Homo sapiens: one gene and its partner. The protein of the gene in region 2 interacts with the protein of the main gene of each other region in a pairwise test. Each region holds a gene or a part of one and is shown on either strand. Other genes may lie near its edges. The genes, in order: FXYD6-FXYD2 and TMEM41A.

The links.
Region 1: the proteins of TMEM41A (region 2) and FXYD6-FXYD2 interact in a two-hybrid assay, tested with the Homo sapiens proteins (one large-scale study listed by BioGRID).

The regions. Positions count from the first base shown.
Region 1 is NC_000011.10:117,819,248-117,822,120, forward strand, and holds the end of FXYD6-FXYD2 (FXYD6-FXYD2 read-through protein isoform 1 precursor), read right to left. Parts: intron 1,649-2,873; coding exon 1,612-1,648; intron 1,450-1,611; coding exon 1,425-1,449; 3' UTR 1,419-1,424; intron 1,126-1,418; 3' UTR 810-1,125; downstream 1-809. Other genes in the region: FXYD2 (sodium/potassium-transporting ATPase subunit gamma), read right to left, coding at 1,425-1,449, 1,612-1,648.
Region 2 is NC_000003.12:185,488,952-185,492,741, forward strand, and holds the end of TMEM41A (transmembrane protein 41A precursor), read right to left. Parts: intron 2,807-3,790; coding exon 2,586-2,806; 3' UTR 650-2,585; downstream 1-649.

The DNA of each region.
Region 1 (2,873 bases), on a different chromosome or scaffold from region 2:
CCAGATGAGGAAGCCAGACGCTAGGTGGTGCCAGAATCCCACAATCCCTCCAGCCTTCGAGGCCTCTGAGTGAAGGGAGGGAGAGGAAAGTTGGGCTCCTTCCTGAGTGCAGAAGGTCCCAGAGGCCTCCCTGCATGGCCATGGCCTTGGACTCACAGCAAAGGGGGCATGGGCATTAGGAGTCGGGCACATTAGGAGTCCGCACTAGGTGGAGCGACCTGGAAGCATCTCAGGCTGAGGCTGCCCTGGGTGGGTCCCTGCCTGCATGGACGGGGGCTGGAGCAAGTGTGACAGTGGTCTCACTCTCACCATCTGTTCCCTGGCCCCAGGCCCTGGAATTAACCAACCCTCCAAATAGGTGGCCCCAAGAGTGGAAAGAGGTGGCCCGAGCTTAGTACCAGGAGGGGGCTGGGAAGAGGGCTGGCTCCTTCAGGACATGTGCAGAGGCCCAGCACCAGGCTCCCCGGACCCACCCACCTTGGCCCAGGGGGGTACATATGGAAAACGGCAGAGCACAGGAATGTGACCACACAGAGGCCCATCTTGGTAGCCTGGGGCCTCTCCACAGCAACTGCTAAGCAGGGTCGCTTCCAGGAACCCAACAGTGGTGCCTGGGGCAGAGGCCTCATGGGTATCCAATGGGCTGTGGTTTTGACCTCTGGGCCTTTCAGACTTCCCAGGTGTATAAAAGCCAGGCTGAGGCCTCTGTCCCCAGGGCTTCTGCCAGTTCAAGGGGTGTGAGGAGTGGCCTACAGATGACAACACTGAACTTCTTGCTTTTACAGGCAGACAGGTGCCTGAGCAATTAATTGAAAAAACAAATGAGACCCGGCTGTATTTGTACTTGAGCTTGGAGAGGCTGGTGGTGACAGAGGAGGGAGACAGGCAGGCAGGTGAGGGAAGCAGCGGTCTCTGACGCCGGCTTTATTATAAGCATGAGGTGGCACGAGGCAGGAGTTGGCGATGCCACCTGGGGGTCACATTGAGTCTGGAGCTTCCTTCAGCCCAAGCGCTGGCAGTGACGGGGACAAAGGTCTAAAGCCCAGGGAAGAAGGGGAGGCGCCAGAGGCAGGGCCATGCTTGGCTTCCCAGCTGGCCCCAGTGCAGTGGGTGGCACCGCCGAGGCTGAGAAGACAAAGGCAGGATGGGGTTGGGTGGGAGGCAGCAGAGGTTGGGGTTTTACTTCCCCCTTGTCCATCTCACTTTTCTCCAGGGCTCCTCTGTGATCTCCTGCGGCACACACTCCACGCCAGGCCCTTGGCCATCATTTTAAACACACGATGGGTGACAGACCACCTGGCTGATGTGTGGACGACCCTAAAATTCTTATTTACCGAGTCCAGGAGCCAGAATTCTTCCCTGTTGCTCCCAAGCCTGCCCTGCCCTCCCCGCACCTTCCCCAGGCCCTCCTAGCATACCTGCTGTTACGGCTCATCTTCATTGATTTGCCTGGTGGGGGAAGGAAAAGCAACAGGTGAGAGGGCAGGGGGAGGGGTGGGTCTAGGGATCTCTGAGGCTGGGGATCCTCCACTGTGTCAGAGACAAAATCCTCAGCCCGCCCCTCCTTCTCCAGCCCCAACCCCCTCATCGGTCACCCCAGGCAGCGCTCACCTGCGCTTCTTATTGCCCCCACAGCGGAATCTTCTGCCTTGAAAAGAGAAAAGGAGATTTGTTTCCATGGACTAATTTTCCAAGGAGACCCTGGAAGACTCAAAATTCTTCCAGTCTCTCCTACCTCCCTCCTGCCAGTATCATCGCAGGGTCAGGCTTGGAGGCCACGTTTGACTGTCTCTATTTTATTTTATATTTTATTTTATTTTATTTTTTGAGACGGGGTCTTACTCTGTCACCCAGGCTGGAGTGCAGTGGTGGGATCGTAGCTCACTGCAGCCTCAAACTCCTGGGCTCAAGTAATCCTCCTGCCTCAGCCTCCCAAGTAGCTGGGACTATAGGTACATGTCACCATGCCCAGCTAATTAAAAAAATTTTTTTTTGTATAGATCGGGTCTCACTGTATTGACCAGGCTGGTCTTAAACTCCTGGTCTCAAGAGATCCTCCTGCCTTGGCCTCCTAATATGCCGGCATTACAGGCATGAGCCACCACGCCCAGCCTTCTCTCTCTTTATATAAGGCTGGACCATAGGCATTTAAGAACCTAAGTCAGTCAGTCAGTCAGCAAATATTTACTGGAGCAGATCCACGGTGGTCTGTTGGCATATCGAGAGTAGCAGCAGAGACTGGGCCATCATGGTGCCCCCAGCACAGCTGCCCGATGAACACCTGGAGAAGGATGGCAGCAACTCCAAAGTGGAGCCCCTTGCTTAGGCCACCTGCCTCCTGTGCCTATGTGATCAGCTGCCACCCGGCACTGCCCTCCGGGAGCTGCCACGGGCAACATGTGAAAATGGGGAGACCTGCAGGACTGTGGCCCGAGCCTTGGGGTGGGCTGGCAGTGGCACACGTAGAGAGAGCTGCCATGGGCAACACGGGAAAATGGGGAGACCCGCAGGACTGTGGCCCGAGCCTTGGGGTGGGGTGGCAGTGGCACACGTGCATTAGAAGTCCAGAGCCCACAGGTGTGCTTGCTGTATCTTCTTTCCATGGGTTGTGTTTTCTGTGTATTTTTCTTTGGGTTGGACCAAAACAAGTCAATGTGCAGTTATTAAGCTCCTGCTGTGTGCCCCTCGGGGCTTGAGGATACATAACTCTCTTTGTCTCCCCCAGAACACTCCGAGTCTGCACTGGACCGTTCTCAGAGCGCTGTCCTGACTGCCATGTCTTTGGATGCTAGCCCTAATCTTGTGAGGCAGGTGGGATCATCCCTATTTAACAAATGAGTTTGGGACCATGGTTAGCAGCGGGGGGCCTAGTC
Region 2 (3,790 bases):
CCCTCTGGTCTCCTGTACTGTCAGTCCCCAGCTCCCAGTGTTGTTTTCTGATGCCGGCTCCCTCTCTGTATTGAACGGCAATGGGAACAAGAATGACTATCAAAGCAAACAAATGCATGGAATTAAACAAAAAGTGTACTTCACTGTTTTCTAGTCCTGTCTTTTTCTAAATGTACTGTTTGTGCCCTGAGAGCTGCCTTAATAATCTCAGCATTTGTCAGAACTTGAGGGAAAGGAAGACTTTCCATGACTGGGTTTCCTGCAGCCACAAAAAGCAGGTAATGGAGAAAGCTAGTTTCTGCGATTCTTGTATTTGACACAGCCACGAAAGGAAGGGGCAATCATCATTTTATTTGGTGACAGCCTCTTCTTGAGTATTCTGTAAAAGCTAGACTGGCACTCTGCTTCTTCCCTATGCTTTCCTGCTGCCCATCCGGTAGCTACTCCTGTTACTACTGACCCCACTATACAGGGAGCAGAGAGAGAAAATGAAGATGAAAATCTGGCTTCTGAGAAATTATTTTGGTAAGAAGCATTGAGAGTGGAAAGCTTAAAACACCATTTTGGACTGTCCAATTTTCAGCCAATCCTAATTCCCACTGGCAAAGGTAGTTGAAAGTTAGCAACATGTTCAAACAAGCACCACACAGAACACTTACATCCATTTATTTGGGAAATTGCTTCACCTGTAAACTCACAACTGATAAGGCACATTATTGCAAAACTGTCGGGGTGGAGGGAGGGAGGCAACTCTAAGGATCCTGAAAAGGGGCAAAGGGCACACACTTGCGATGATGTGGAAAACATGTTTCTCCTTCCCTCCCCCTACTCCAGAACACCAAAGGCCACAGTCTTCAAAGTCTGCTGCCTCCTTCCCCCACTCTCGTTATCAAGGCTTCTTTTAAAGAAACACGTTTTAAACAATGAAATCCTCGGTGTGAAAGGATCATACCATAACCAAAAACCATCACCTGGGGATGCACTCTTCCTATGGAACGTGAGTAATTCCCAAGAATTCATGTAGAACAAGAGGCATAGATTAAAGTCTTGGCAAGACTCTTGGCCAAACCAAATCATCAACCCAGCAGATGATGCCCAAAAGCAGCAGTCTGGTAAGTCCTGATGAGTTACTCCTGTGGGGTGCAGGATCACAGGGCTGGTCAGTTTAGGTGCCAAGGTCCTTCTGTCTTTGGAAGCATTAATCCAGGTCTGTAACAATTCTGTACTGCAGCTACAGGAAGTAATGACAGCTATAGGCCATTAAGATACAACACAACAAAGTTATCAGAAGCCAAGGTTTCCTCTTTGAATTAAAAGATAAATTAAAAGATACAATTGTTTAGTTACTCTAAGCAAATACAACAATGAAAAACATTCAGAGGGTATACTGCCTGATGGCCCCATATACTGAACCCATTCTCCTAGCATGACACAGAACGGATTCCTGCAGAAAGGACAGATAAAATGTTTGCCTGGTCATGATTCAGGTGAGTCAAGGGCCCTGCCCCATCCAGATGGGTAAGAATTTCTCCAGAACATATCCATGACATACAGCGTTTGCTCCATTCATATTTAATAGTCTGTTTGCAATCAGCTTAACTGTCAGGACATGCGATCATAAGGAGGTCTGACATACATGGTAATGTCAGTGTGTCTGAACACAAGAGCGTGACAGAAATCATCATGTATGTGAGCAACACGTGGAAGTCCTAGGCAGTTCGTCAACTTGTTTCACTTGGCTTATGAAGAGGTAGGTCATCAGCAAAGAAGTACAAAAAAATGCTCTTCAAGAGACTAACAGAAGATGAAGAGCGGTGTCAGTGATGTGAGTTCCCGTGTCATCATTGGTACTAAACATCCACAAAGATGCAACAGGAGGACATCTGTCCCAGCAGCCTGTCACTCTGCAAAAGCAGTACTCTGGACAAGGACAATCAGCATCTTCTCCCAAGGCAGCTCAGGGGCTGGCATGAGGCAAATACAACAGGCTATCCCGAACTCCTTATTAGACCACAAAATACAAACAGCATTTTCTTTTTTTCTCTTTTTTTTTTTTTTTTTGTCAAGACAGTGTCTCACTCTATCACCCAGGCTGGAGTGCAGTGGTGTGATCTTGGCTTACTGCAACCTCTGCCACCTTGGTTCAAGCAATTCTCCTGCCTCAGCCTCCCGAGTAGCTGGGATTACAGGTGCCTGCCACCACGCCTGGCTAATTTTTGTATTTTTATTAGAGACAGGATTTCACCATCTTGGCCAGGCTGGTCTTGAACTCCTGACCTTGTGAATCACCGGCCTCGGCCTCCCAAAGTGCTGGGATTACAGGCGTGAGCCACCGCGCCCGGCCACAAACAGCATTTTCTAGGAGGCATCTGTTGCAGTGTCTGCTACACCAGGGCTGGTTTGAAAACCTGATGTAATACACCTTCAAGAGCAGAGTGTCCTTTCTGAAAAGACACTGCACATTGATGCACAGTGTCCACATCACCTATAGAAGGCAATCAAAAACAATGAGGGGCTTTAGAGGACCACATCCATTACACAAATAAGCAACTGAGTCCAGGGATGTGGCAAACAGAAAATCCAGATCATGTGTCTTTTCTACTGTGTATATGATTAGCAGTACTTGTTTCATTCAATTGCAGATGTTTCTGACTAAATTTTTTAATGAGGGTTCCAGGAATTAATGCCACCATGGCAATGGCCAACAGCTTAAAGACAGTGTCCCAGGAGAAAAGAGCATCCAGAGAGGTTAGGGTTGACAGGATGGACCCTGTCTGCACACAGATGAAATTATATGGGATCAAACCTGGAAGAAGAAAAGGACAAAGCACCTGTTACAAGCAGCAGCAAAATTAAGAAAATAATAATTCAGAATGTCACCAGGAACAGTGACTACGGTTTTTTTTTGCTTGACTCTTGACCCTTATACATATTAACTCTTTCCCTTCTTTCCTTCTTTTCTATTATTTTCCCTCCTTTCCTCACTTCCCATATATGCCTGTCTTGTTCAACAAAAGAACTTGAGATATTTACACAAATAATACATGCTACTATAAGACAATTTTAAAATAGGGCCAGGAATGGTGGCTTATGCTTGTAATCCCAGCACTTTGGGAGGCCGAGGTGGATCACCTGAGGTCAGGAGTTCGAGATCAGCCTGGCCAACATGGTGAAACCCCGTCTCTACTAAAAACACAAAAATTAGCCGGGTGTGGTGGCATGTGCCTGTAATCCTAGCTACTCAGGAGGCTGAGGCAGGAGAATCACTGGAACCTGGGAGGCAGAGGTGGCAGTGAGCCAAGATCTTACCACTGCACTTCAGCCCAGGCGATAGAGCTAGACTCTGTCTCAAAAATAAATAAATAAATAAATAAAATTTTAAATAGGAAAAGCAAAATGCGTGCAGAAGAATACAAGACATCAGGGAGTACAGTTAGTAAAAAAATGCATAAGGTTCACCTGTTTGCCAAAAGTGGGCCCCAAATTTGGTTCTGAGTACCCAACAGCCAAAGTAAAGAGAGAAGTGCCATTGTTGACAAACAGTTTTTTAAAAGAAGTACTATTCACATTCTGTACTGTCTCAAAGATGTCATCAAATCCACTGGATTCCAAAAGTCTGGCTGGCTGAACAGGCTGGCTGCAGAACAATCAGCTGGTGACATTGTTAAAAAACCACATCCTTGGGCTCCACCCCAGAAATTCTGGGTACTTGGTTCTGGGGTAGTGCCCAGGAACCTGTATTTTAAAAGCCCCTTCTCCACTCCCACCCTGAGATTCCGATTGGTTTGGA